3 separate regions of the Homo sapiens genome follow, and regions 1 and 2 are each linked to region 3. The links come from fine-mapping of genetic effects on gene expression. A gene starts in region 3. Each other region holds a variant in brackets. All regions are shown on one strand. Distances are from middle to middle. Region 1 overlaps CLN8 (CLN8 transmembrane ER and ERGIC protein). Region 2 holds the start of MIR3674 (microRNA 3674). Region 3 holds the start of CLN8 (CLN8 transmembrane ER and ERGIC protein).

Region 1 (10,408 bases), 27 kb before region 3:
AGACAGGCTGAGGCAGGAGAATCCCTTGAACCAGGGAGTTGGAGGTTGCAGTGAGCTGAGCCAAGATCATGCCACTGCACTCCAGCCTGGGAGACAGAGCAAGACTCTGTCTAAAAAATAAATAAATAAATAAAATAAAATAAAATAAAATAAAATAAAACATAAAAAAAGGAATTTGACATAGAATTTTATAGCCAGCTCAACTGTCACTGAAGTATAAGCACATACCAAATTATCTTCCAATATAAAAGGCCTCAGAAGATCCACTTTTCCAAAACTCACTTTGAAAACGTTCTTCAAGGAAATTAGAAGATAAATAAATCCAGGAGGATGTTGATAGGAACTATGGGTATAAAAAACTTTAGATCAAATAGATTTTAGTAGTCTATTGTTATCTAAAAAAGCCAGGAGCAGCCAGGTGCGGTGGCTCACGCCTGTAATCTCAGCACTTTGGGAGGTCGAGGCGAGCGGATCACAAGGTCAGGAGATCAAGACCATCCTGGCTAACACAGTGAAACTCCATCTCAACTAAAAATACAAACAATTAGCTGGGCGGGGTGGCGGGCGCCTGTAGTCTCAGCTACTCGGGAGGTTGAGGCAGGAGAATGGCGTGAACCCGGGAGGCAGAGCTTGCAGTGAGCCAAGATCGCACCACTGCACTCCAGCCTGGGCAACAGAGCGAAACTCCGTCTCAAAAAAAAAAAAAAAAAGGCCAGGACCAAAGTGAGGAGAGAAGATGAAGTACATTTACAACAATGCAAAAGTAAATATTTAAACAGAATCAACATGGGAGTCCAAAGATTTAATATTAATCTGCTCAGGAAATCAATACGATTAGCTATGTATTGATGTGGATCTTAAACTAAAGGTAACCACCATTAAAATCGATAGGAGAAACTTAGGGAAAAAGAAATGAATGTAAAAGCCAATTATGAATGAAGGAGGCAGAAATAAAGTCCTGCTGCAACCAGACACAATCAACTTAATGAGCTAAAACACCAATACGAAGCTTGGATTTATAAAGAAAGAATCAACAGTTTTCCAAGAGAAGCATATTTAAAAGTAAAGGATACTAAAAAGTTTAAAATAAATAGAAAAAGAAGTACTAGGCAAATTGGAATCAATATAAAACTAGATAGTAGCCCTGCTATCTGCCAAGTCCAAAGCAATCAGCGAACAGCATGCTGTTACACACCTGAAAGAGGAAACAGATGAACAAGATGCAACCATCATGATCACATGTGTACTTAAGCATGTTTCTTTAAAAAAGCAAAAACTGACCGGGTGCAGCGGCTCATGTCTGTAATCCCAGCATTTTGGGAGGCCGAGGCGGGCGGATCTCCTGAGGTCAAGGGTTTTCGAGACCAGCCTGGCCAACATGGCGAAACCTCATCTCCACTAAAAATACAAAAACTAGCTGGGCATGGTGGCGCATGCCTGTAATCTCAGCTACTCGGGAGGATGACGCAGGAGAATCACTTGAACCCGAGAGGCAGAAGTTGCAGTGAGCCGAGATTGCGCCACTGCACTCCAGCCTGGTGACAGAGGAGACTCCGTCTCAAAAAAAAAAAGCAAAAACTGACACAACTCTACAGAGAAAAACATAAGTTGGCAATTATACTAGATATTTCTTAAAACATATAAAATAGCAGACATCAAAGATTTGAAACATACAAATTCTAAATTATTATATTTACATAGAACTCTGCATCCGATGGAGACTATACTTTTAAAAATGCATAGAATGTTTACACAATTTGATCATATATCATGAAAAATGTATTTAGCAAGAAAGAAACACAATAAACTCTAAAGCAACAAAGTGTGTTCTAATGTAATAGTAAAATAAATTTTGAAATAAATAACAAAAGGATAGAAGTTTTAAAATACCACATTTTTGGAAAGGAAATGACATTACTAAATATCCCTTGGGTTTAAAAGTAAACCAGAAGAGGGTTACAAAATATTTAGAACCAAATGAAAATAAAAACAAAAATGTCACACTTTGTGAAACAATGTTAAATTAGCACTTAAAAGAAATTTTATAATTTCTAATGTATTTACAGGAAGCAAGAAAACTTCAAAATAAAACAAAATATTCAATACAAAAATCTGAAAACTGAATAGAAACACTGAATACATTGAAAACAACAAGAAGAAAGGAAATAATGAATATAAGGACAGAAACAAATAAAAACTTATCAAAAAGATTAGCCAAAAAAACCACTACTTCTTAGAAAGATTAATAAAGTAGAGCTTGAAAAAGACCAATCAAACCAAAAAACAAGCAAGTAAGATACAAATCAACAAAATATAGAACAAAAGACCCTACAGATATAGAGAGATTTGCTAACATAAAAAAGTACTTTTTAAAAAATGTTACATTAGTTAGGAAATATAGATGAAAGACATATGTTTTTCAAAAATATAAATGCTGAAATTGTAACAAGAAGGATTTCTGTAAAAAAAATCCTGCATGATTTCATGTGTAAGACGGCCTAGAACAGGTTAACTAATCTAAGTAGAAAAATAAACTAGAAAGGGATCAAAGACCTAAATGTAAAAGGTAAAACTAGAAAACTCTCAGAAAAAACTATGAGTGTCAATCTTTGCAGTCTCAGGTTAGGCAAAGCCTTTTGTGATATGATCCGAAAACCACAAACAACAAAAGAAACATAGAAACTTCTAGAAACATCAAGAGAGTGAGAAGACAAGCCCCAGAGTGCAAAGAGGTCTGTGCAGACCAGGTGTCTCATAAGTGGTGTGCATACAGAATAGATCCAGAACTCTTCCAACTCCACGATCAAAGAATTACCCTACCAGGCCAAAAGGACACCGGATGTGAAGAGGCGTTGCTCTCAGGAAGACACACGAAGGGGCCAGGTGCCAGTGAGGTCACTCAGCGTCATCAGCCATCAGGGAAATGGGAAGCAAGCCACACTCAGGCACCACCGCGCACCCACTAGCATGGCGGTCGCGACGCAGATGGGCAGTAACAAGGGCTGCTGAGGATGTGCCGAGCCCGGAACCCTCACGCACTGAAGGGAGCGTAAAGCAGCCAAGAGTGCAGGTGCTTCGTGAAACGGTCTGGCAGTTCCTCAGCATCTAACCAGCAGTGGGACCCAGCAGTTCCATTCCTAGCGGAATACATAAGAGAGGGGACGCCTATGTCCCCACAAAAACATGCACATGATGTTCATCCCAGAACTGTTCATAACAGCCAAAAAGGGCAGATGACGCAAATGGCCATCAACTGATGGACAGCTACATAAAATGTGGTCAATCCATACGATGGGGTATGATTTGGCAATAAAAGGGAATAAAGAACTGGTACACGCTACAACACGGATGAACCTTGAAAACATGGTGCTGTGTGAGAGAAGCCAGCTGCACAAGGCTATGTATTGTATGATTCCCCTTATAGGAAATGTCCAGAATGGGCAAATCCATAGAGACAAAAAGATAGCAGTTGCCTAAGGTCAGGGAGGAGGACTGGGGCGGGGCGGGGGGAGGGGGGGCGGGAGTGAGGGTCGGGGGGCGGGAAATGGGTAATAGCTACTAATGGGGACAAATACTTTTTTTTTTTTTTTTAGGTGATAAAAATGTTCTAAAATTGATTGCGGTGGTTTCACAATTCCATGAATACTAAAAAACACTAAATACACTTTAAACGGGTGAATTTTATGGTATATGAATTATAGTTCAGGAAAGCTGTTAAAATAAACGAACTGGTTCCTTTTGGAGAAAACAGGGCAGGAGAAATAGAGAGGAGAAGACATTTCTCTGGGCACAGCTTTTTGAATAGTTTTAACTTTTGGAATCATGACATTTTACATATTCAAATAATAAAATTATCAAGAATCGGGGAAAATGCTACAACAGAATGCCAACAAAGGAACCCAAGTGTCTGTCAAATGATTAGCCATCATCTGAAGGGGAGTCGGGACAAAACAAATTTAAGTAATTTTTGGAGACAGCACTTTGACTGCATACCCTCAGACTAAAGAAAAAAGCTGCAAACAGATCTGGAACTCTCCATGGGTTTGTTTCTTGTGGCCCTGTGGGTGGAGCCATTCCAAACCTGCTCTGTGTTACAGCGTGTTTGAGCCATGCGTGATGCTGTCTCTGCTGTTGTGAGCCGGGGTCGTCACCATGCAAGACGGGATGCACAGGAATGAGGCAGGCAAGGAAGTGCCGTGGGGCTGGGTTGCAGCAGAGGTAGAAGGGTGTGGAGGTTCTGATGGCCCATGAGCAATGAGCACATCTCCCACCCACATCTTAACTTCTAAATTCCATTCCTCACTAAAAAGAACCAGAATTCTCAGAGAAAGGGCTGGATCCAACCACACGGCAGAGAAGGCGTGTGTCTGCTGCATACAAAATAAGGACGTGGCCAGGTGCGTGGCTCACGCCTTCAATCCCAGCACTTTGGGAGGGCGACGCAGGCGGATCACAAGGTCAAGAGATCGAGACCATCCTGGCCAACAAAGTGAAACTCCATCTGCACTAAAAATACAAAAATTACCCAGACATGGTGGCACATGACTGTAGTCCCAGCTACTTGGAAAGCTGAGGCAGGAGAATCGCTTGAACCCAGGAGGCAGAGGTTGCAGTGAGCCGCCACTGCACTCCAGCCTGGCAACAGAGTGAGACTCTGTCACAAAAAAAAAAAAGCAAGAAAGAAAAGAAAAGAAAGAAGGACGTGCTCCATATACACCACGGAATACTATGCAGCCATAAAAAAGGATGAGTTCGTGTCCTTTGCAGGGACATGGATGAAGTTGGAAACCATCATTCTGATAAAACTATCACAAGGATAGAAAACCAAACACCGCATTGTTCTCACTCATAGGTGGGAATTGAACAATGAGAAGACTTGGACACAGAAAGGGGAACATCACACACCGGGGCGTGTCGTGGGGTGGGGGGAGGGGGAGGGATAGCATTGGGAGATATACCGAATGTAAATGACGAGTTAATGGGTGCAGCACACCAACATGGCACATGCATATGTAACAAACCTGCACATTGTGCGCATGTACCCTCGAACTTAAAGTAAAATAAAAATAATAATAATAATAAAAAGAAATGCAGACATGTAAAAAAAAAAAAGAAAAAAGAAAATAAGGATGTGCTCAAAACAAGGACTGGTACAAAGAAGGACGATTCAACAGCCTGAAGAGACCCCCACAGCAAACCTGGAACAACGGGAGCAGCAACATCACAACAACAATCAATTATAACCCACTATAAATAGAATACCGTTGCCAAACAGAGAATCCAAGAACCCACAGGGATAATAAACAAACACTGGG[A/G]AGAAAGTAGCCCTTCTTTATAGAATGCAGTAAGAAGTGACGGAGTTGGAAAATTAGCAATATTGAGCCATCACCGTGAAGGTTGACCCAACTGAGTGCAAACGTGACTTGGTGCCAGTGAGGCCAGCTTGGGGCAGGAGGCAGCTTTATGTGCAGACAGGGCGTTCTCAGCCTCAGCAGATCTCCCGCAATATACCCAAGGACGAGGAAAATCAGTGACTGTTCAGAGGAGGAACCACCTTATCAGGGACCAAAATTAACATTGCCAATCAGGGCAAGCTGACAGACGTCTCTGTGTTTGATATCTCAAGGACACCGTTTACAGAGCACTCCAGCCAGAAATATATAACTCGAATTCCATCCTGACAAAATACCAGACCAAACCAAATTGAGGGCATTCTTTAATATAACCAGCTGGTATTTGTTCAGAAATATCACTGCTGTTAAAGACAAAGACAGGCTGAAGAACTGCAGCAGGTTAAAGAAGAATAAAGAGATATGATTACTAAACAGAGCATGTGATCTGGTACTCCGTCCTGGACCAAGAAAAAAAAGGATAGGAAAGAAACCGTCAAAGTTGGAATGAAAACGGTAGATGAGATAAAAGGTACTGGCTCCATGTTACATTTCTTGAATTGATAGCTTATGTGGTTACATAAGAGAATATCATTATTCTTAGGAAATAAACATTGAATTTTTTATTTTTTTTTTAGACACAGTCTCACTCTGTCACCCAGGCTGGAATGAGATTGCGTGATTTCAGCTCACTGCAACCTCCACCTCCCGGGTTCAAGCAATTCTCCTGCCTCAGCTTCCCTAGTAGCTGGGATTACAGGTGTGCACCTGGTTAATTTTTTGTATTTTTAGTAGAGATGGGATTTCACCATGTTGGCCAGGCTGGTTTCGAACTCCTGGCATCAGGTGATCCACCCGCCTCAGCCTCCCAAAGTGCAGGGATGACAGATGTGAGCCACTGTACCCAGCCAATAAACACGAAAGTATTAAGGGGTAAGGGATATAAAGTAACGTAGGGGAAAGAAAGAAAGAGGAAGAGGCAAGGAGAGGGACAGAGACAGTGGGAAAGGGAAGAGACACTGCTATGACAAACGTGGCAAAAAGTTAAAAATAGATAAATAGGGATAAAGAGTATATGGAAGATTTGTTCTTTTTTCCCCCTCAAATTTCTGTAAGTTTGAAATTAGTTCAAAATAAGAAGCTAAAAACAAAAATAAAACGGAACAGAGCAACTTCCTTTAAACCAGGAAGCCTCCTTTTGAAGCTGCAGCATCTGAGATGCAGGCGGCGAGTCCAGCCCCTCCACTCTGTCTCCCCTCCCAGCCAAGATGATTTTTAAAAGTCCACAGTTGCAAACCGTAAGTGTCTCCTAGGGAGAGCTTTCTATCATTCACGTGGTTAACATGGTTAGCAGGTTAACACCTTCATCCTGTGTGTTTAGGAACGTCTGTGAGAAAGGGTAAAGGTGAACACGGCAGGTGGGGCGTTTCCTTCACTTTTGCGGTCAGGCCGGTGTTTTCCTTGCGTGATGGGACCCCAGGCTGGTGGCCCAGGGCTGTGCCACTCGTTGCTTCCCATGCCTGAGTGTGGATGTGGATCCTCATGCCTGCCCCTCATGGTGCCAACGGCAGGTGCCCCTATAGGCATCGGGACTGTATTTCAAGGAAAAAGGAGGCAGGAAGGGGCGGGAAGGTGTCCTCAATCCAGGCTTGCCTTCACTTGCAAAGGCAAACGCACTCAGCTGCAAGCCCTCCCCTTCTCAGTGGCCAGAACTGTGCTGTGTGCATGCCAAGGGCCAGAAGACAGACACCAGCTGGCAGAGGACTGGCTGACCAGGGACCGACGCTGGCAGAATGCAATTCCAGTCCTGCAACTAGTTCCAAATTAAAATGTAAAAAGCCACATTTAGCAAATGAGATTTTTCCTGAGCTTTATTTTTTTAAGGGCTGCGTGCTTTCTATTTGAGATAATCTGAAATTACAGAAAACACACAATGGGAATATCGCATGGTGGCCTCCACCTTTCTAAGCTTTGGCTGTTGCCACAAAACCACTCTATGGCTCTAACGTTCTGTGCTCCGTGATTGTTTTGTGTGGAAACAAAATCTCTGGGGTTGACCAGATATGCTTGGAAATTCCTTGCAACAAATGAAACAGCAGCTAAAATGCACTGTGTTCCAATTGGGATTTTGCATTTCCCATATGATTTTTGAAAAACAACACAGAAAACGTGAACGTTACAAGGACTATAAAACTTTTCTGTGTAGGCCAGGCACGGTGGCTCATGCCTGTAATTCCAGCACTTTGGGAGGCCAGTATGGGAGGACTGCCTGAGCCCAGGAGTTTGAGACCAACCTGAGCCAGACAGCAAGACCCCATTTCTACACAACAAATTTAAAAATTAGCTAGGCATGGTGACATGCGCCTGTGATCCTAGCTACTTTGGAGGCTGAGGCAAGAGGATCACTTATGCCTAAGAGTTTAAGGTTACAGTGAGCCACGATCACGCCACTGCACTCCACGCCTGGCCGATAGAGAGAACCTGTTTTAAATTAAAAAAAAAAAGTTTTTTATGTAAAGTTTTGGCAGAAACTTTTCAGATTGAGACTTGACATTTAATAACTTTCTGTAATAATGGAGGATTTTAACTTTGGTTTAATTTTTGGACTCTTTTGATGGGTTTGAGGTTGCAGGTATCAAACCCTGCAGGAATGGGCTGTGCACGGCTTCAGGCGGGCTGGAGTGCTAACTGAGGCTGCCAAGCGTGAAACAGCACAACGGTAAAAGCAAAATACATGCAGAGAGAAAAGAAATGAATTCACTCCATGGGCCTGCAGATGTGGAAAAGAAGTGTCACTAAGGCCAGGCGCCTGTGCTCTGGGGTTCCTGGCCAGGTTCCCAGAAGGAAGGGTGTGGTTTCTTTTTCCTCTTGGATGGCTGGCTGTGGGTCCTGGATACCTCGGAATCAATTCCAGACATTTGGGGTTGAGTCATCGGAAGAAAGGAAATAGAGACGTCTGAATTTTTCACATCACTATATTTTAAACATGATTAGGCAAGTATATTTTTGTTACTAAAATAGTAAATACATTTTACTAAGAGTGAAGTACATTTTGTTACTAAAAAGGAGAAAAGTTATTCAAAATGATAAATATGGAATTAATAAGCTCTCGCATTAGAAGAAAATAGGAAGAAAGTTAGCAAAGAAAGGGGTGAACTGAAAGCGTCAACATGCATTCGTGAAAGTCTGGGTGCAGTTTATTCTGATTTACTCTGAGGTGAGCTGAAATCAGGACCGCAGGGTGGGCGATGCATCTGTGACAAGGCTGGACAGACTCATGGGTGCCTGCCCCCCCTCCTCCTGCAGCCCCTCCCCCAGGGCAGGCCTCCTGTCCTGGGAGCCAGGCTGCTGGCATGTCACACAAAATCACGTGTGCTGGGTTCTGCACAGAGCAAAGCCAGGTATGCAGCACAAGGCAGGCTGTCTGGCTCTCGAAGACCCCGATAGAGAGCCCCCGCAGGCTGGGCATATTCTGACCCCAGAGGTGGCAGCTTCCTGCAGTTCCCTGATCTGTCATTCCTGTCCTGTGACTTCCAGGGAGGGGCAGCTCCTGGGAGACCCACCAGCTGACACCTGGGACTCTGCCCTTCCTTCCTAGGCTGCTGTGTGAGTGGGGCTGGGGTCTGGAGACCCTGAGGGCTGCCCCAACACCAACACCCCTGCCTGTGCTCCTCTTGTGACATGGGTGCGTCCTGTCTTTACTGCCGAAGCCACAGCAGGGGTTTAGGGAGCCCGTGCATCTGACCAGTACCTGTCTAACCCCACGCCGCCTGTGCCACCGTAATCTGACCGGTACCTGTCTAACCCCACGCAGCCTGTGCCACCGTAATCTGACCGGTACCTGTCTAACCCCACGCCGCCTGTGTCACCGTAATCTGACCGGTACCTGTCTAACCCCACGCCGCCTGTGCCACCGTAATCTGACCGGTACCTGTCTAACCCCACGCCGCCTGTGCCACCGTAATCTGACCGGTACCTGTCTAACCCCACGCTGCCTGTGCCACCGTAATCTGACCGGTACCTGTCTAACCCCACGCCGCCTGTGCCACCGTAATCTGACCGGTACCTGTCTAACCCCACGCCGCCTGTGCCACCGTAATCTGACCGGTACCTGTCTAACCCCACGCCGCCTGTGCCACCGTAATCTGACCGGTACCTGTCTAACCCCACGCCGCCTGTGCCACCGTAATCTGACCGGTACCTGTCTAACCGCACGCCGCCTGTGTCACCGTAGTCTGACCGGTACCTGTCTAACCCCACGCCGCCTGTGTCACCGTAGGACAGAGCACAAAGGAGCACCCAGGATGCACACCTGACACACTTCGCGGCCGAGCCGCAAGCCTGAGGAGCGGGAGACCCTCGCGGTTCAGCGGCGTGAGGGCAGAGCGACGGAGCCCCTCCGCTTCTGTCTGCGTGAGCACATTCGCATAGAACAAGAGTTCTGACCTGGTCAAACACTTGACACGCACATAATGGAGGAAACTTTTGGCATGCTATCAAATGCTTTCTCACATGCACACAACATCTCCTCCCCAGCATGAAGGAAAGGCAGCTGACCCTGGCCGACCCCACCCCAGGCTGGCCCCCACCAGAGGCCCGAGCGTTTCCCCTTCTGGCCACACGTTTCCAGTGGCCACCGTTCTCTACTGAGGACATCACCTCCAGCCGCTGGTCTTGCCAGGCAGCCTGTGCGAGGGTGAAACTGGCTGCCCAGCCTCCCAGCCCTGCCCTTACCGTGGTAAATTCCCCCCTCAGCAGGTGTCCCCATATCAGCCCTTGGGTCTGTCCCCTGCAGGGCCCTGCCTGGCAGCCCTGGGTACTACTGGTTCATCCACTCCCTACTGCCAAGCAGCCATCCTGTGCCAGGGACATGGGGCTTAGAATCAATCAGAGAATAAAACAGATGCAACCCTGCCCGTGTGGAGCTCACAAAATTCGGACATGGGAAGAGAACCACATTCACCGGGTGCTGATGCTGCAGTGTGACCGTGTCCCCTCCAGAATTCACATGACATTGT
Region 2 (10,408 bases), 38 kb before region 3:
TTGACAAAATTATATATTCATTAAAATCTCCTTTTTGCGTATATGTGTGTGTATATATATATATATATATATATATTTTTTTTTTTTTTTTTTTTTTTTTTTTTTTTTTTTGAAATGGAGTTTTGCTCTTGTTGCCCAGGCTAGAGTGCAGTGGTGCGATCTCAGTTCACTGAACCTCTGCCTCCTGATTTCAAGCGATTCTCCTGCCTCAGCCTCCCAAGTAGCTGGGATTACAGGCGCCCACCACCATGCCTAGCTAATTTTTGTAATTTTAGTAGAGATGGGGTTTCACCATGTTGGCCAGGCTGGTCTCGAACTCCTGAACTCAGGTGATCCACCTGCCTCGGCCTCCCAAAGTGCTGGGATTACAGGTGTGAGCCACCGCATCCAGCCCCTTTTTACATATACTTTTAATTTTTGTATATACATTTTTATGACTATATATAGTATGTACAGCATATATATTTTGTGTGGAGAGAGAGAATTTCTAGTTTTTAAAGGTTCAGAAAATCCATTGATACAAATATTACTGAAAATATTTAGGGGATAGGACATGAGGTAGCCTCCACTTCAAAACCTTCCTTGTACAGGTGAGTGAGAGACCTGGAGTTACAGGATTATCTGGGGGCAGGGTGGGGAGGGGATGATGTTGAAATGAAAACCAAAACTCCCGAGTGTTCCTATACCAAATTAGCAGCTTCATGTGAAAATCAGCCCCAAGGAAAACCCAGGAGACAGCTGGGTCCACAGCCCTGGAGAAGCAGGAGCAGCAGCTGGGTCCACAGGCGAGGAGAGGCAGATCCTGGAGAAGCAGGCTCACTTCTCCCGCCCAGTGGTGGCCATGCCATGTCCCTCCTTCCACGTCTCCCAGCCGCACCTAAAACTAGTACAGATGGGAATAAAACCCACCTCTGGAGTGTGTGTAAGTTATGCAAGGTGTGAATCAAACATAGGAAACGCTGCTAGTGCATGGCCTTGGGCAGACACACAGGAGAACCAACAGGAAGGAAATTTACCAAGATATTAACACATGGTCTGTTTCCCTCTTTATTGTAATTTGTATTTCCAAAACTAATACTTATTACATTTATATACTGATTAAAACAATGAGTGGATTTCTTTAATAGATAAGAAGTATCAATATGTACAAGTCCATTTTATTCATGGCTGAATTAGCAAGAAATATATAAGAACCAGTTAGCCATATTTTGACACACCATGTCTTTTTAAATTAGCACTAACAGTAACCTATCAGCATAACCCAAAGAAACATTTACCCTTTGTAAAATGACATCTTCCTCTTGTCAAGTGTTTAAAATGAATATAAATGGGCCTGCTGTCCCCAGTTTTTCTGAGCAAGTGATTTGCAAAAGCTTAAGGCCTGAAACCTTGAAGCCTGTACCAAACTGTCCAAACAAGGCAGTGTTGATGAAGATGGACACCCTTGCTATTTTCTCATTAGTCCAGAATAAGTAGGATGTAGTTACAGAAAAATCACACCAGGCGCCATGGCTCACACCTGTCATCCCAGCACTTTGGGAGGCCAAGGCAGGCAGACCATGAGGTCAAGAGATCGAGACCAGCCTGACCAACATGGTGAAACCCCGTCTCTACTAAAAATACAAAAATTAGCTGGGCCTGGTGGCGTGTGCCTGTAGTCCCAGCTTCTTGGGAGGCTAAGGCAGGAGAATCACTTGAACCCGGGAGGCAGAGGTTGCAGTGAGCCAAGATCATGCCACTGCACTCCAGCCTGGTGACAGAGCGAGACTCTGTCTAAAAAAGATAAATAAATAAAATAAAAAAGTCATGCCAGAAAGCAGGAACACTTTGCAAAGGAAGTTATTGACAAACAGTAAAAATTCTAAAAATCACTATAGTAAATGAGTGAAGGTTAGCTGCTGCAAAGGGGAAAATGTACATAGACCATAAATTAAGCTACACATCGTAGAAAAATAAATAATCACTCCAAAAGATCCCACCTCCACAGGGAGGCTTGAAAAGATGCTATTACACCACAGCCCACAGATGAAAGTGTGAACTCAAAAGTATCTGAGACAGGTCTCCATCCATTTAGAAAGTTTATTTTGCCGTGTGGGTTCACTTTCACACTGCTATAAAGAAATAGCCGAGACTGGGTAGTTTACAAAGGAAAATGGTTGAACTGACTCACAGTTCCATATGGCAGGGGAGGCCTCAGGAAACTTAAAATCATGGCGGAAGGCAAGAGGGAAGCAGGCACCTTCTTCACAAGGCAGCAGGACAGCGAGTGTGAGAGAGCCTGGGGCAACTGCCCTTTATAAAACCATCAGATCGCTGGGCGAAGTGGCTCACGCCTGTAACCCCTGCACTTTGGGAGGCCGAGGAGGGTGGATCACCTGAGGTCAGGTGTTCGAGACCAGCCTGGCCAACATGGTGAAAACCCATCTCTACTAAAAATACAAAAATTAACCAGGTGTGGTGGCAGGCACCTGTAATCCCAGCTACTCGGGAGGCTGAGGCAGGAGAATCGCTTGAACCCGGGAGGTGGAGGTTGCAGTGAGCCAAGATCACGCCACTGCACTCCAGCCTTGGCAACAAAACTCTGTCGCAAAAAAAAAAAAAAAAAAATCAGATCTCGTGAGAGTTATTCACTATCGCGAGAACAGCATGGGGAGAACCGCCCCCATGATCCAGTCACCTCCGGCCAGCTGTGTCCCTGGGGACTGCAATTCAAGATGAGATTTGGGTGGGGACACAAGGCTAACCATATTACTTGCCAAGGTTAAGGATGAGCCCGTGACACAGCCTCAGGAGGTCCTGACCACATGTGCCCAGGGTGGTCGGGGCACAGCTTGGTTTTATACATTTTAGGGAGACGTGAGACATCAATCAGTAGGTGTAAGATGCACATTGGTTTGGTCTGGAAAGATGGGACAACTCAAAGTGGGGGCTTCCAGGTCACAGGCAGATAAGAGACAAACAGTTGCATTCTTTTGAGTCTGGGATTAGCCCTTCTTTCACCAAATACACAATTTACATGTGAAAGGGGGGTAGAGGAACAGTCACTCTTGCCTTAGTCTGGCTTAGTGAATCTGCATTTTTTTCTTATTTTTTAGAGACAGGGCCTGGCTACATGGCCCAGGATGGTCTCAAACTCCTGGACTCAAGCAATCCTCCTGCCTCAGTTTCCTAAAGTGCTGGTCTTACAGGTGTGAACAACTATGCCCAGCCTGCATCTGCAGTTTTAAGTAAAATGGGAGGCGGGATTCCCTGATGCAGTTCCCAGCTTGATTCTTCCCTTTGGCTTAGTGACTTGGGGTCTCGAGATTTATCTTCCTTTCACAAGAGCCTGTGGTTCCACCGTAAGGACTGGAGTGGCCGATGCAGGGGGAGGAGTTTTGGGTGTGGCCACAGAGGCAGCTCCCAGCAAAGGCTGGCCACTGCATCCCCCTTCCTCACTCTGACTCCAGTCTTTCTGGCCATGAAACTTGACCTCTGTCATTTCAGGGGTTTCTTGTGGCCCCTCCACCCAGGCTAGCCCAGCTGAGCCCTCGAGGCTCCTCCTGCACCCTAGGCCTTGTTCCTATCACTTCCAGAGCCTGTCTGGTCAGTCCGAAGGTCTCTGTGTTAATGTTAATGCCATCGGCTGTTCCTGACCCCAAAGGGAGAGGATACAATGAGGCGTATCAGACCCTCCCCTTCCCGTCCGGCCTGACTTGTTTTTCAGGTTTGTTTGGAATCCTCTTGGCCAAGAGTAGGGGTCCATTCAGTTGGATGGGGGGCTTTTGGTTTTCGGAATTTTATTTTTGGTTTAAAACGGATGCTCACATGGGAGCCTGGGCCCAGAGCGGCCCAGGAAAGCACGTTCCAATGCTCCCTGCAGTGATCTAATGCGCTCAGAAGGTGGGAATGACTGTTCTAGTTCCCAGAGCCCCTTTTGCAGGGGACAGATGCTGGTGTAGAGTCCATGGTGCATTCAAGTCATGTTTCCTGCCCATTCCATCCGAGTGCAGTAGCCTCAGTATCTCATGCTACTAAAGTGATTGTCCAATCACTGTCACCGCCTGAAGGCTGGCTACAAAATTAAGAAATTAAAACTCCTGCCCACTGCACAGAGAAAACCAATTCACTGAAACCATGGTGTTGCAATAAAGAAAGTTTAACTGACACGAGGCCAGCCACGCCACGTGGGAGATGGAGTTATTCCTTTCATGCGCGTCCGTGTGAAGAGACCACCAAACAGGCTTTGTGTGAGCAAAATGGCTGTTTATTTCACCTGGGTGCAGGCGGGCTGAGTCCGAAAAGAGAGTCAGCGAAGGGAGATAAGGGTGGGACCGTTTTATAGGATTTGCGTAGGTAAAGGAAAATTACAGACAAAGGGGGTTTGTTCTCTGGCGGGCAGGAGTGGGGGTCGCAAGATGCTCAGTGGGGGAGCTTTTTGAGCCAGGATGAGCCAGGAAAAGGACTTTCACAAAGTAATGTCATCACTTAAGGCAAGGACCAGCCATTTACACTTCTTTTGTGGTGGAATGTCATCAGTTAAGGTGGGGCAGGGCATATTCACTTCTTTTGTGATTCTTCAGTTACTTCAGGCCATCTGGGCATATACGTGCAAGTCACAGGGGATGCGATGGCTTGGCTTGGGCTCAGAGGCCTGACCATTACTTAAATCAATTTCCCTGAAAATTTGGAGGCTACTGTATTTCAAGGGTAGTTTAGCAGGCCAGGGAGTCCGCTTCTGAGTGGGGCCACAGGATCAGTCGGACATCAGAAATGCAAAAACTTGAAAGGACATCTCAAACGGCCAATCTTAGGTTCTACAATAGTGATGTTTATCTGCAGAAGCTGCAAATCTTGTGACCTCCAGAGTAATGGCTGGTCGTCGTTTACATCTATATTTTAGCAGAATCCAGGCTCCTCTCATCCTCCTAACCTACTGGCCTTTCATTAGCTTTACACAGGCAGTTCAGTTCGGGAGAAGGGCTATTATCGTTTAAACTATAAATATCTTCCAAAATTAGTTTGGCCCAGGCCTAGGAGTGATGAAAGACAGTTTGGAGGTCAAAGGCAGGATGGGGGTTGGTTAGATCAGGTATCTT[T/C]CAACGTCATAGTTTTCTCACTGCTGTAATTTCTGAAAGGTGGTTTCATCACTTCCAAGAGGGTAGAAGACATGTCCTACTCTGGCGGCAATTCCTGCGGGTGGCTGAAGGACTGAATCTGCACAGAGCGGCTGTCAGAGGCCAGTGCGTTCTCTGCTCCTTGTGTTCCTATCACCCAACTCTCCTGTAAGCCAGGCAATAAGAGACGGGAGAAAAACATCCTCATGCAAAGCAGCCGGACCCAAAATGAAGAAATGAAAAGATCAGTGGATCGTTAAGACCCGAAGTCAAATTTTTAACATGCCCCTGACTTTGTGGTTTTAAACTTGCCTGTTTGAGACATGTAAATACTCACTGATTTATAAAAACACCAGTCATCAGGCGTGCCAGTTTGATTCCAGAGAAAACAGTAGAGAGTGCCTTATCGGGAAGAACAAATGGCTGCCCTTATCTAGACGCTTTCACTTACTGCATGGTTCAGCACACGGCATTTTCATGATATGCAGAAACCATCTTCATAAAAAGTAATTTTCCACTTGCCCAATTAAATAACTGTCAAAGCGTATTTCCGAGGAAATTACACTGCATTGTTCTTAACTTTGCTTAGTTGTTAAAAAAAAGTTGACATTTTATTGTGAAATAAAACATATGCAGAAGAATTCACAAATCACACATTTACTAAATGATTATAAAGCAAATAGCTATGTAACCAGATCACAAGCAGAGCCCTGCCAGCACCCCAGAACCCCCACGGATCCCATCCTAACCACAGCCCCATTCCCTCATTGGGAAATGTGTTTGGTTTTATTTGCAAGCCAACCCATAACCTCACCTCATGTTCCAAGAAAGTCCCACAGTGATATGAGGCCAATCTGTTCAGCTATTTTTATAGGGAATTCTTTACCGCCTAAATCCAAAATACTTCCAAAATACTTCCCACTTCTGGGAGCCTGGAACTCACTCCCACGCTCTTGGCCTCATCCAGGGAGGAGCTTTCTCGCAAACCTGTCGCTCCAGGTCCTAAGAAACCAGATTTTATTAAAAGATTGGGTTTAGGACAATTAGGTAACTGATTAGTCTATCACAGTTGTCTGTGACAAGAACATAAATATTAGAGTTGAGACGTCAATTTTGTGAATAAAACCAAGCAGAAACCCTAACAAAGGCAAGAAGGGGTTTGTTTAGATCAGATGCAAGGGCTTCTGGTCCAACAGGCAGACAGAGCCCTCATGTCCATCCATTTCCTGCTGAAACCTGGCTAAAAATATTTAAGTGTTGAAAGTAGAGAAAGAAGATAGAAGGCATGGCCGGGTGTAGTGGCTCACACCTGTAATCCCAGCTCTTTGGGAGGCCGAGACAAAAGGATTGTTCAAGGCCAGGAATTCAAGGCCAGCCTGGGCAACATGGTGAGACCCTGTCTCCATTTAGAAGAAAAAGAAGAAGAAGAAGAAGAAGAAGAAGAAGAGGAAGAGGAAGAGGAAGAGGAAGAGGAAGAAGAAGAAGAAGAAGAACAAGAATTGGAGGAGGAGGAGGAGGAGGGGGAGGAGAAGGAGGGGGAGGAGGAGGAGGGGGACGGGGAGGGGGAGGGGGAGGGGGGAGGGGGAGGAGGAGGAGAAGAAGGAGGAGGAGGAGAAGAAGAAGGAGGAGGAGGAGGAGAAGAAGAAGGAGGAGCAGGAGGAGGAATACAATGGTCCAGTGCCAAGACAGTGAAAGGCAGAGGGCCATGGCAAAGTCTGAGGGCTGGAGGCAGATGGACAGATGATGGACGAATGGGCACCGGTGAGGCCAACCAGAGGAGGCTACCGGAGCTACAGGGAGAGCCTTTCAGGCATCTCTGAAAGGGGACATCAGGCGAGGCTGAAAGCAGGAGGCACAGGATCACCAGGTCCTGCTCCACACCCAGGAGGGCAGGTGGCAGCCCCAGCCCAGCTCGGAGGGCCCAGGAGGAATCGGCCAGAAGACACTGTCATGGAGATCCTGAGGCAGCAATGGGAAGCAGGAGGAGTGAAAGAACAGTGGCCTTTGCCTACTTGGATCCAAGAGTTGTGGCAGTCGAATGACAGATCCTTCCGCTCCGCACCCCAGGGGACAGCATGACAGATCCTTCCGCTCCGCACCCCAGGGGACAGAATGACAGATCCTTCCGCCTCACACCCCAGGGGACAGCATGACAGATCCTCTCGCCGCACACCCCAGGGGACAGCATGACAGATCCTCTCGCCGCACACCCCAGGGGACAGCATGACAGATCCTCTCGCCGCACACCCCAGGGGACAGCATGACAGATCCTCTCGCCCCGCACCCCAGGGGACAGCATGACAGATCCTTCCGCCCCGCACCCCAGGGGACAGCATGACAGATCCTTCCGCCCCGCACCCCAGGGGACAGCATGACAGATCCTCTCGCCGCACACCCCAGGGGACAGCATGACAGATCCTCTCGCCCCGCACCCCAGGGGACAGCATGACAGATCCTTCCGCCCCGCACCCCAGGGGACAGCATGACAGATCCTCTCGCCGCACACCCCAGGGGACAGCATGACAGATCCTCTCGCCGCACACCCCAGGGGACAGCATGACAGATCCTCTCGCCGCACACCCCAGGGGACAGCATCACAGATCCTTCCGCTCCGCACCCCAGGGGACAGCATGACAGATCCTTCCGCCCCGCACCCCAGGGACCCCAGAATTCCTTTCAGGGAAACACACCCATGAGAAAAATCTGCGTGATTCAAGAGTTCCTCAGTATGAGACCCACGCGCCTCCCTGGTTATCCCCGGTCCCACAGGCAAACCTCCTTATGCCACAGACACACACACACACACACACACGCACACCCGGGGTTCCACATCCTTTCTCAGTGCCTCATGCTGAGAAATAAATAGTCGAAGACCACCAGACACAAGGAAGCCTTCGACATGGAGAAAGAGGCAAAACCAAATTGTGTGGTCAGAGGAGACAGTGAATGGGGCAGAAGAAAACTTCAACAGAGAAAAGCGATTGTTGAAATGCTCCGGGGTGTCTGTCTCCCACCAGTGGAATTGCTGTGACACTCGGTGTGTGTCAGTGTGTGCAGAGGCATCTCCTGTCTCTAGTGGAGACTCTGGGATCAAATTAGTGACTGGTACACGAACACTCATCCAACCACTAGAGGAGGAGGAAAGGGCGCAGGGCTTTATTATGAACAGGCTAGGTCAACAGGACGGGCCTCGGGATGGGAAGTGGGTTTGAAGAGAAAGAGGAATCAAGAAAAATCCCAAAAGTTTTGACTGCAACACCTGGAAGGAGAGCAGCCCCCTGTACCGAGATGGAGGTAACAGGAAGAAGAGCACCTTGTGGGGGAAAGCAAAGCCCTGGTGTGGGTGGCCTGAGGCTGTAGAAAGTGTGTGATGCTCCAGATAAGGTGTCAGCTGACCCAGTATTCAGGTCTGGGCTGGAAGTGAGATTTTGGGAGCTTCTTGGGTATGGATGTGATTTACAGGTGACTTTGCCTGGGAAGATCCTACAGATGGAGAAGAAAGACAGGAGGAGGTTAGGATGATGGGAGGGGGACCAGGATCGGGCTCCAGGATCCCTCCCAAAAAAGCTCTTCTGGAGGAAGGGTTGGTGGAGCAAGTGCTGGCCGCCGGTGCCCTGGCAGGGGTGACTGTGGGGGGCAAAGGGCACTGTGGTGGGCCTTGGGCCTAAGAGACAACAGGAAAGAGGAGGTGGGGCTGGTGTGTGTAGGAAGTCCTTCTAGGTGGTTTCTCTAGAAAGAGAAGAGGTAGCTGCTGGAGGGGGTGAGATCCAGGGGTCTTTTCATGGCAGCAGCTCTCAGCATGGCATAGATGGACCAGTACCCCTGAGTGTAAAGGGGCGACGGTCCCGGGTGGAAGGGGCTTTGGACAGGCAAGGGAGGGGAGACAGTGCAGAGCCTCAATGCTGGTGGGCGGGATCAATGTGATGGTAAGCAGACTGGGACATTCTCTCAGGAGTTATCCATAAAACCTAGTGGACAGTTAAAAAGAGGGGAGAGAGAGAGAAAGAGAGAGACAGCAGTGGGAGTCCAGGCAGATGTGAGTTTGTGACCCAGGGAGGAAGCCTGGCAGAAGGGGCCCCTTTCCTCCAGATCTGGGGATCTGGGACCTAGGAGTGTCTTGGGATCTGTAATGACTGGGAAACATCCAGGGCAGTTTCCACGGCAGCCCCAGTGCGCCAACACCTGGTCCAGGAGGACAGAGAGATTTACTGAGTCCAGACTCGAAACAGAACTACACAAATAGGAAGGTGTGGAGGGGGACGTGGGTCCTGATTTCCAAACTGGGGCCTCCAGCCTTGGATGGAGGAAGTTAGGAAGGAAGGAAACAAGGAGAATTCAGGGACAGCTGGAGAAAAGGCCTGGAGTTCCTACCGGTCTATGGAAAAAGCAGCAATCTTGTGAGTGGGAGCATCATCCGGAGCTGGGTGGGTGGGAGGACTATCAGGGAGGCTCGGGGCTGGGCAGGAGATGGCCCTGCTCTCCTTCCCCTCCCCGTCTTCTGCAAAGCAGGCAGGTCTGCTCGTCCAGTCCTCAGGGGATGCTTAACCTCACTGCACTTTCGGCTATTTGTTTTTTAAGAGTTTGACTGTAACTCCCTGCCCCCAGGTGCTGGCGGTAGGGCTGCAGCTAATGGAGTGGTTAGCCCAGACTCTTTCCCTTCCCAACCCCAGTTCTGGGGAAGACCTCACCTGGGATCTTCCGACCAGTGTCTTATACCCCAGGGGGAACACACCCACTCCAAAGAGCTAACACCCAAGGACTGCAACCCCTGAACAAGAAACGAGTTGAGCTGAGGATACTGTTTAAAGTTTATTTATTTATTTATTTTATTTACCCAAGGACTGCAACCCCTGAACAAGAACAAGTTGAGCTAAGGATGCCATTTAAAGTTTATTTATTTATTTATTTTATTTTTATTTTTTGAGACAAATCTTGCTCTGTCGCCCAGGCTGGAGTGCAGTGGCGTGATCTCGGCTCACTGCAACCTCTGCCTCCTCGGTTCAAGCGATTCTCCTGCCTCATCCTCCTGAGTAGCTGAGATTACAGGCCCGCGCCACCACACCTGGCTAAGTTTTGTATTTTTATTAGAGACAGAGTTTCACCATGTTGGCCCGGCTGGTCTCGAACTCCTGACCTCAGGTGATCTGCCCACCTCAGCCTCCCCTGTTCAAAGTTTTAAAACAGATGCACCAAGAATTTATACAAATAAACATATTCAAAGAGATAAAGGCAGACACCAGAGACATAAAGCAGGGAAGAAGGAATGTCTAGCATCCAATGAAATAATTGAAATAAGGAACATGATGAGGCCA
Region 3 (10,408 bases):
ATACAAAAATCAGCCAGGCGTGGTGGTGCGCACCTGTAATTTGAGCTACTCAGGAGGCTGAGGCAGGAGAATTTCTGGAACCCAGGAGGGTGGAGGTTGCAGTGAGCCGAGATCACACAACTGCACTTCAACCTGGGCAACAGAGCAAAACTCCATCTCAAAAAAAAAAAGAAAGAAAGAAAACAAGTTTCTTTCCTAACCACCCTGGACCCCAGAATCTGACTACAGGAAAAAGAAATACACAGAGCAGGCCGAGTGCAGTGGCGCACGCCTGTAATCCCAGCACTTTGGGATGCCAAGGCAGGTGCATCACAAGGTCAGAAGTTCGAGACCAGCCTGGCCAACATGGTCAAACCTCGACTCTATTAGAGATACAAAAAATTAGCTGGGCGTGGTGGTACATGCCTGTGATCCCAGCTACTTGGGAGGCTGAGGCAGGAGAATCGCTTGAACCCGGGAGGTGGAGGTGGCAGTGAGCTGAGATTGCGCCACTGCACTCCAGCCTGGGTGACAAGATGAGACCCCGTCTCAAAAAAAAAAAAAAAAAAAAAAAAGAAAGAAACATACAGAGCAGCGGGAAATGAAGCACCTACTACAAGCCAGATGTTCAACTAGTTTGTGTGATCTTCACCATAAGAGCAAATAGCTACCAGGTCTTCAAGCTTTCTAGATATCTTTTTGGAGAGATTACCATATCTACAGAAAAGTGGCAGATAGGTGAAAGACATGGAAACAGAAACAGGTAAGCCACAGCTGAGTGGGCAAACCCTCCTGGCAGTCAGAGAACAGGTGCCAATTAGGGATGCAGAAACAGCAGATTATAAAGACCAGAATGCTTACTTCCCCTTCCAGTCCTGTAGTGAATCCCCCATTCTGATTCTTTGCTCAAACCTCCTGACTTTCTGGGTAAGCTGGTGCTGTTCTAGTCTAACTCGTTACTGTGGGTCTCTGAGTTTAGTTAATGCCAACCAGCATCCTCCAGCCAGGAGTTCACAAAGGAGGTGAACTCCTCAGCTCTCTCAGCCATGAGGGTAGAAGGCCAGTCCCAGAGGCAGGATCCAGCCCAAGCGCCCAGTCTTCCTGGAGTCCTGCAGAGCTCTGCTGTCCTTTCGTGGCATCAGCGTTGTACTGAGAACAGCTGTGGTTCACCCCAAGTCACAAGGTGGGCACCCACAGAAGTGTGGCTAGGCCTTGTTCTGTCAGGCAGCACAGAAGGGGTATGGGAAGAGCTCAGCTTCTCCTTTTGCTTCTATTTCTGCTCCTTGACCCAACCACACCCTCTCACTCTTGATACGCAAAATGGGACACAGGGGTTCCCACTGTTCCCTTGCTGTGCACCATAAGGCTCAGGCCACATGAAGGAGTCCTTAAGTGTAATGCACAGCTGGAAGTCACTGTTCCTTCCATGGGTAAAACTGGAGGCCGAATCGGCCGGGCAGGGTGGCTCACACCTGTAATCCCAGCACTTTGGGAGCCCAAGGTGGGAGGATCACGAGGTCAGGAGATCGAGACCATCCTGGCTAACATGGTGAAACCTTGTCTCTACTAAAATACAAAAAAAAAATAGCCAGGCGTGATGGCGAGCGCCTGTAGTCCCAGCTACTCGGGAGGCTGAGGCAGGAGAATGGCGGGAACCTGGAAGGCGGAACGTGCAGTGAGCTGAGATAGCGCCACTGCACTCCAGCCTGGGTGACAGAGTGAGGCTCCGTCTCAAAAAAAAAAAAAAAAACAAAAAACTGGAGGCCGAACCTAATGGACTCATCTGGTTCTTTCATTCTGGAAGGCTTCCAAGCCCTTCCACACCAGCCCCTTTCCTCTCTGCAGTAGAGGAAGTGGAGCCGGAGAATAAACAACTCCTGGAAGGCCACCATCTCTTGACGCTGCAGATCTTCATTTTCTTTGGAGAAAATGTATACAAAAAGCTTGTCTTATAAGATTCTGTGGTTTCAGCTCTTCTATTGCACTGGGCCATGAAGTTTTTTAAAAATCTGAATGCAAACACATCAGTAAGAGTGTTAGCTCTGTTGCTGCAGTGTGACCAGGAACCAGGCTCAGTGGCCACTGGAACCCTTCGACTCTGTCATGCATCTATGCGCTCCTCCGGTTTATGGGGGCTAAACTGCTATGGATACCAGCATTTTTGTTTTTCATTGAGATAATTTATCCAAACTTGGAAGTGACGTCAAAAGGGAAAAAAAAGGTTGCATGCTTTTTTCCCTGCTAACGCAAGTTCAGTGTTTTACAACCCCAACAATCACTTGACTTTCTAGGAGAAATAACTAAACTATTTACCACTGATTGTGGGTCACGCATTTTACAATCTGCAAAGCTAATTCTCCTTTCCATCAAGAAGAAAAGACAATCCCAAAGGCTGTGGTTTCAATGCACACAGGATATTCACCAATCTTATTATCTAATCTGGCAATCTTCTCTCAGCATTCCTGTTACCCACTCACTAAGAAAATCCTAGTTTTGTGTATTCTCTTTTGAACTGACATTCCTATCCTGCTGTATACTGCATTAATGACTGAAATATAACCTGACAAGAGCTATTTACATGAGAATTATACTTCTAACATTTTGAAAATTATACATTGATGGGTTGTAAAAATGTTTTCCAAAATCAACAGAAATACATGTTTAATACACAAAATTCAGAAAATATAAACAAGCATAAAAATACAAAAATAAAAATTTACAATCCTCTTACACAGCTCCAAGCACCATCACTATTTTTTGGTGCCTGCTGGGTCAATTGTTTTTCTAGATATAAACTCTTCTTTTTACATAAAAGGGGATAACAGTATACAAGCTGCTCCCCGGCCTGCTTCTCTTCTCTCAGCAACAGCTAATCCTCCTCTGCAACACGGTTGCAGGGACTCCACCATTTACCTACCCGGTGTCCTACCAGGCTTTTGCCCAGTTCCTCGTTATCAGAAGACATTGTGTATTGAACATCTCTGAGGCCACCTAGAGAACCTGTGCTCTTTGTATGGAAACTGGATGCTCAGGAAGAACTTCCTTAACAACCACAGCCTCCATGACGGCCAATCTGAAAGTGAGGCACAGAAGTGTTCAAGCTCAGTGGGGAGCTGTGGCCATCTCATATTCCCTCAATCACTCACACTTCCTGCACCATTGCTCTTTCCTCTCACAACCTTCCTGAAAAGTTGTATGTAAATAAAAATCAAAATACGGGAGTGAGGTAAGCAGAAGCTGGATAGTTACAGATTTCACACAGAGGGTAAACTGAAACAGGAGTCAGAAGCAGCCGCCTCGCGCCAGTCTTTCAGAGAAGAGTCACTTACAGCAGAATCTACACAGGCTGGGGAGCCCCTGGCTCCCCTCCCTACTGTCCACACCCAACCCCAACCTAGAGCAGCTGGCTATAGGGCCCAGAGCCCAGGCGGGTCCCACCTCCTGCTGACCTGACCCAGCGCCCGCTCTCTCCCCCGCACACTTTGGTGACCTTACCCAGCGTCCCTCCCCGCTCCTACAGGTTCTGACTGACCCAGCGTCCCTCCGCCTCCCACACCATGTTGAGCTGCACCTTGTCCCCTTCCGCCCCAGCTAACTCGGTGACCAGTGGAGGCCACACCCACGTGACACCTGCTGTCCTTGACAGCAGCTCCGACGGCACCTCTGTGGCTCTGCAGGAGCCGCCTCCCCGCCTCGTGGGCACACAGGTGAGCTGACCGTACTTGCCCAGCCGGTCTGAGGGAAGCGAGGTCAGGGGCGACGGCGCCGCCTCCGCCTCCGCCTGTCCCCTCCCTCCGTCCGGCATCCGCGCCGCTCAAGGACTCCAAAGTCAGCGTCGCGGTGAGGAGCCCCCCACGCCCAACCCGCGCAGGCAGGACCCCGGGCTGCGGGGCTCGAAAGTCCCCCACAAGCTGCTGTCCGGGAACCGCACGGCCCGGGGTGCCGCACGCCCACCGGAAGGCAGGGCTGGGACCGCGGACGCCAGGAGCCACCCCGGCCCCTCACCCGGGCTCCCCCTCACGTGGGCTCCCGCGCGCCCATCTGGGTTCCCCCTCAGCTGAGTTCCCGGCCCCTCACCTGGGATCCCCGGTCCCCTCACCCGGGCTTCCCAGCCCCCTCGCCTGGGCTCCACGCGCGCTCACCTGGGCTGCCCCTCACCTGGGTTCCCGGCCCCTAACCCGGGCACCCCGCGCGCTCACCTGGGCTGCCCCTCACCTGGGTTCCCGGCCCTCACCCGGGCTCCCTGAGCGCTCACCTGGGCTGCCACTCAGCCGGGCTCCCTGCGCTTGGCGCCGCCCCGCCCCTGCAGGACTCCCGGCAGTCACTGACCTCATTGCCGCCCAGTCACGACTGGCCGGCCTCAAACACCGCCCGCGCACGCGCGTTCGCACGCGCGTGCGCACGCGTTCTGCCCCCCTGGGGGCGTCGCTACGAGAGGCCCCGCCTAGGCGCTACGACGGCGGCGGGCGCGGGAGGGGCGGGGCGGCGGGCGCGGGAGGGGCGCGGCGGGGGGCGGGGCGCGGCGCGGGGGGCGGGGCGCGGCGGGGGGCGGGGCGCGGCGGGGGGCGGGGCGCGGCGGGGGGCGGGGCGCGGCGGGGGGCGGGGCGCGGCGGGGGGCGGGGCGCGGCGGGGGGCGGGGCGCGGCGGGGGGCGGGGCGCGGCGGGGGGCGGGGCGCGGCGGGGGGCGGGGCGCGGCGGGGGGCGGGGCGCGGCGGGGGGCGGGGCGCGGCGGGGGGCGGGGCGCGGCGCGGCGGGCGCTGTGGGGCGGCGGGGTGGACGCGCTGAACCACGGCCGGCGGGAGGGGCGGGGCCGGGCTGAACCATGGCGGGCGGCGGCATGGGGGCGGTGGGGCTCCGCGGGCAGCCTGGTTGCGCTGCACCCGGACGGGGCCGAGGGGACCTGAAAGCTGCGGCAGAGCCTGACCGCGCCGTTCTCCAGAAGAGCCCCGGCCGCGGCTGAGTCGCGCTCCGGGTGTGGACGGAGCCGGAGCCTCCCCGGGGCTCGGTGAGGACACAGGGCCCAAGCCCCGGACCTTCAAGTCTTGACCGAGCGCATCCCCGGCCCTTCTGCGCCCACACCTGAGTTTTTGTCTGTAGGAGTTTCCGCAGTTTGCTAAGGTTGTTATTCGAGTTACTTATGTTTCTTCTCTCTAAGGTTGTTATTCGAGTTACTTATGTTTCTTCTGTCTAATGTGTTTTGTTCCCTCTTTAGAATCGACATCTAGAGGAGTACTCACCACTTAATTGATGATCAATACACGTTCCTTGAAAGAACCGATAGCATGCGATCGATACAGAGCATCTGCACTGGGATTGTCCGCCCCGCCTGTCAGGGAGGCCTCGGGGGCTAATGGAGCTGAGGGTATAGTCGGCCTTGGACCCTCGCTTTTTTCCTTTCCTGTACTATGAAGATAACTGCCTTATCTCCCCCTCAGGACTGTTTTGGGGATTAAATAGGACGTTTAAATTACCAACGCTCTTTGAAATAAACATTTCAAAATTATTATAACCCTTTAGTACATGTGGGAAAACGTTGACATTCATGTTCAAGTTTATTTTTCTGCTGGCTCATTTAGGTTTGTTGAAGCCTTGAGTCCCTAGGATTGTCTAAGAACATGGGTAAATGTGTGTGGAGGCCTCCCTGGAGGCCAGAGAACTGCCAGCAGCCTTCATGATGTTAGGGGAACAGGAACCTAGGAGAGCCAGGGTGACATCGTTTTAAAATCAACAACCCATCTTGGCGGGCGCGGTGGCTCAAGCCTGTAATCCCAGCAGTTTGGGAGAAAAAAATTAGCCGGGTGTGGTGGTGGGCACCTGTAATCTCAGCTACTCAGGAGGCTGAAGCAGAATTGCTTGAACCCAGGAGGCAGAGGTTGCAGTGAGCTGAGATCACGCCATGGCACTCTAGCCTGGGCAACAAGAATGAAACTCTGTCTCAAAAAAATAAAAATAAAATAAAATAAACTCCATCTTAAAACCAGTGAAACCACCATTGCAAAATTATAACTGAGACAGTGAGAGATCTGACCTAACCAACTCCATCCTACTTTTAACCTCCAAACTGTCCTTGTTCATTCCTGGGTGTAGGCCAAACTAACTTTGGAAGAAACTTAGTTTATGGTTTCCCGAAACAAATCCTTTTCTTGTCTGGAGACTAGACTGCCTTTGTAGGACTAACAAATTAGCCACAAGATTAGAAATTATGGTTTAGAATTCATGCAGCTGGAGATTACAAGATTCTGACCCTCCCTAAATTGCTCCTGGGGATAACATCACTATTGAAAAACCTAACAACAGTGCTTGAGATATTTTGCAGACCTTGCACTTGCTGAATTAGCTGGGACCATCCAGATGGATAAACTGGCTCATCTGATCTTGTGGCCCGCACTCAGCAACCGGCTCAGGCCAAGAGGACAGCTTTGATCCATACGATTTCATCTCTGATCTGACCCCTCAGTGCTCCCAGCTTACTGGCCCCCTACCTACCAAATTATCCTTAAAAACTCTGAACTCCAGGGCTGGGCACGGTGGCTCACACCTGTAATCCCAGGACTCTGGGAGGCCGAGGCAGGCGGATCACTTGAGGTCAGAAGTTCAAGACCAGCCTGGCCAACATGGCAAAACCCCGTCTCTACTAAAAATACAAAAATTAGCCAGGCGTGGTGGTGCACGCCTGTAATGCCAACTACTTGGGAGCCTGAGGCAGGAGAATTGCTTGAACCCTGAAGGCGGAGGTTGCAGTGTGCTGAAATCGCACCACTGCACTCCAGCCTGGGCAACAGAGCAAGACTCCATCTCAAAAACAACAGCAAAAACTCTGAACTCCGAATTCTTGGGGAAATTGATTTGAGTAATAATAAAACTCTGGTCTCCCGCACAGCCAGCTCTGTGTGGATTATTCTTTCTCTATGCAGTTCACCTGTTTGGATAAATCAGCTCTGTGTAGGCAACATGAACCTGATTGGCAGTTACAGTAGCCTGTAATCCCAGCTACGTGGGAGGCTGAGGCAGGAGAATTGCCTGAACCTGGGAGGCGGAGGTTGCAGTGAGCCGAGATCATGCCACTGCACTCCAGCCTGGGCAACAGAGCAAGACTCCATCTCAAAAAAAAAAAAAAAAAAAAAAAAAGATGGCTATAGTCATGCTTAGATGTAGTTACGCACTGAAATGCCAAGGATAACGTTATTTACATCCACCAAGTACTAGATCTTGTCACACTGCCAGCCCACCTGCACTTACACGTAGCTTGGCTTTTACATTGATACAAGATGCCTTTGAAACAAAGATGGCACATTCTTCTTCCTGCTTTCCGCGGGCTCCCCACTCTGTATCAGAGCAGCTGTCTCTCACTGCACTCTGCGACTGCCTTGAGTTCCTCCCTGCGCAAGATCCGAGAACTCTCTCTTAGGGTCTGGACTGGACCCCTTTCTCCATCAGCACTGGGTTCCTTAGATTCCTACTAACAGCATGCTGAGGCCTGTCTTAACAAAGAATGAAGTGAGGCTTAGAAAGATGGAACCATAACTTGCTCAGTCACGTGGCTAGTAAGCTCTTCAGCTTGAATTTAAACATTCCAGGACTGTGTCTTTCCACTCGGCCATCTTTAAAGCAGAGTGATAAAATAGTTTTGTTTTCTAAAAAACCATCACAGGCATAACTGATCACAGGTATAACCAGTATCCATGCGGGGTGTGGAACACTGAATGAAACCCGGGCGGATTCCCAGCTTGCTCCGTCTCAGCTTGGGCACTGCTGTTTACAGCCTGTGTACTCCCCTCCCGCCCTGCCACCCACAAGTGTCTCACCTCCTTCCTCGACAGATCGAATGACACAACAAACATTTATCTTGGGTGCACAGCGTGTCAGGCGTCAGGCTAAGCACTTTGATAAACTGGTTCTTTCAAACATCACAGGTGTCTGACGCAGGCACCATTATCCACGTCATAGAAAAAAAACAGTGTTCAGTGAGCCTGAGGTTAGCAATGTGTGCACCTCCACACACTGCTAAATGACAAAGCTGAATTTTGAAGTACGATGCCATGAGGTGTCTGGAGTAGACAACCAAAATGACTTAATTGAGGTGTCAGGGGACTGTCTTACTTTCTGGTCACACAAGCAATATACGCTCATTGTGAGGTTTGGTTGTTCCATTACAAAAAAGACTGTTTTAAAAGCCATTAGCGGAGGGATGGGAGGAGTTCTCTTCTGCCTGTTTCTTCCTCCTAAACAGCAAAATGACGGTGTCCTCAAAGGGATGTATAATGAGCGAGAGGCGAAAAAGAACGTCTGTGATTTTAAATCCAGTGTCCTTCACCAGTGAGCAATAGTAGTTCTGTGAGTGGGAGAGCAGGACCGCGGTGCTTGCAAACAACACTTTAAAACACTGGAACCCAAGTTCAGGATCTGCTGACAGCACATCTGCAGGAAGCATGAGGGTCTCTGGACTCCCGCAGATCAGCTGCTCAGCTTCTCAGCCTCAATGTGGCAAAGACTCTACCTGACCTAACTCCAGGCAGGGTCCTCGAAGCCCTCAAGGCTCTGACCTGGACCCCTGTCCCCTTTCGTCCAAAAGAATCCTGCTGGGTCAATGCAGTGACAGTTCCCCGCCCCTGATATCATACTCCTCATCCCTCACCCTCGGTATCTTATCACCTGGCCTGCCTGTGGCACGAATCCTACCAAGTGGTTCTAGCAAGAACCCCCCTGGCCTGATGTAGCCTCTTCATAGTTTTCCGTCCGTTCTCACCCTCTCCGTGGCTGTACATTCCCGTTTTTCTTCTTACACTCAGAGTTGAGCCTAGTCCCACTGCAGTGGCCCCTGCACCTATCGCGATTCCTTTGAGACTGTAAAACAAAAATAAAATTCTAGTCCCCCGCCAACCCCGTTAGCCACGAGCTTTCCAAAGTAAACCTTAGAGACTAGTTCAGACCGTGATGGGAAGTGGGGGTGGGACAGGCTCCTTATACCCGCCTTCCGTTGAAATCCAGGCACAGCTGACCTGCATTAACGTCAAAGCAGAGATCTTAAGGTTGACAAAACAGACTCTGTAGCAATAAGATACTACATTCCAACCTGACTCTAGTATAGCATCACATGATAGAGAGCAGGCCCTGGAAGAAATCAAGCATTTTACCCCAGAATATATTTCTTTGACATATTTTGAAGGGGCCCCACACGGCTGTCTCTTGAGGGGAAAATCCACATCCTGCCAGAATCCCCTTCCCTTTCCAGGTCTTTTCCCTGATCTAGGAGAGATTTAACTAAGAGTCTGGCACCTCTTTTAGGTCCAATAAGAGCTCTGAAGATAAAAAACCTTGGTCTCCACAACCTTTATCGTAACCCAGACAATCCTTTCTATTCATTCCAGGTCTCTACAATAATAACTTAACTCTTTCAATTAATTGCCCATCAGAAAATCGTTGAATCCATCTGTGACCTGGACACCTTCCACCTGCATCCATGGAGTTGTGTCACCTTTCTGGACCAAACCACTGGACACCTTACATGTATCGATTGGCAACATGTACACCTCCACACACTGCTAAATGACAAAGCCGAATTTTGAAATACGATACTGTGAGGTGTTTGGAGAAGAGAACTGAAATGACGTCATGGAGGTGGCAGGGGATCGTCTTGCCCTTTTCTTATTTTCTGCCTGTAACTTCTGTCCCCCTAAAATGCATAAAATCCAGCTAGAACCCAACCACCTTATGCAGCAGTTCTTAGGACCTCATGGGGCTGTGTCATCAATCAAAGTCCTCATATTTGGCTCAGAATAAATCTCATCAACTAATTTACAAATTTGACTCTTTGTGTTGACAAGTCTGTCTTACCGTTCTTTAATAAGGGCCGTGTATAATGTTTTCTTTAGCAAGTGTGGCAAAATTAAACCTTAGAAATAAAGAGAAAAAGAACTCATTATAGAAAACTGTCTTTCTGCTGATGCGGGCATTCACTGTGTCCATTTCTTTTTCCAAAAAGTGTATCTTTCTTAAAAACTGAAAAATATTGAGCCACAAAACACAGTGCCGATGGCTTGCATGCGGGACACTCGGGATATCGTACTAAAGGGCTCTGATGCTGTCTTGGTGATCTCTATGCTGGGTGTTACTTCTGCTGGCTGTGTGACCTTGGAGGGGTTGCTTAACCTCTCTGAGCCACAAGTGTAAAAGGATGAGATTGGTCCCTAAAGTCTCCTCCAACATGAAAGCTAGACGATCCTGAATCTTCTGCTATTTGAGGATCAGACAAACAACATTTGGCAGGGTTCTTCCTGTTGAAAATGATAACCCCGAGATAATAGCCGTAATTATCAGTACCCAAAGAAGCCTTAAATCCCCATTGGACGAAGCCATTGGCATAACAACCAGCCTTTAAAAATGCCCATAACAACCAGCCTTTAAAAAGTGCCCAAGCATGGTGGCTCGT

Evidence for each region. PIP is the estimated chance that this variant, and not a neighbour inherited with it, causes the effect.
Region 1: its variant is fine-mapped to the expression of CLN8 in gastroesophageal junction (GTEx, PIP above 0.99).
Region 2: its variant is fine-mapped to the expression of CLN8 in whole blood (GTEx, PIP above 0.99). The same link has a PIP of 0.9 or more in lung.

Annotation. Positions count from the first base shown.
Region 1 is chr8:1,784,510-1,794,917 of GRCh38, reverse strand. CLN8 (CLN8 transmembrane ER and ERGIC protein) reads right to left here. Exons shown (of 3, transcript NM_018941.4): 3 at 8,348-10,408. Among named protein-coding and RNA genes, the nearest start is that of MIR3674, 11 kb to the left of the region's middle. RefSeq lists a silencer at 9,510-9,632. The variant A/G (reference allele first, on the strand shown) is at 5,316.
Region 2 is chr8:1,795,528-1,805,935 of GRCh38, reverse strand. It overlaps MIR3674 (microRNA 3674), which reads right to left and starts at 4,811; the gene lies at 4,744-4,811. RefSeq lists enhancers at 2,865-3,525, 4,186-4,847, 4,681-5,880. The variant T/C (reference allele first, on the strand shown) is at 5,079.
Region 3 is chr8:1,757,712-1,768,119 of GRCh38, reverse strand. CLN8 (CLN8 transmembrane ER and ERGIC protein) reads right to left here and starts at 4,331. Exons shown (of 3, transcript NM_018941.4): 1 at 4,235-4,331. It overlaps CLN8-AS1 (CLN8 antisense RNA 1), which reads left to right and starts at 3,536. Exons shown (of 2, transcript NR_134303.1): 1 at 3,536-3,686; 2 at 5,192-6,157.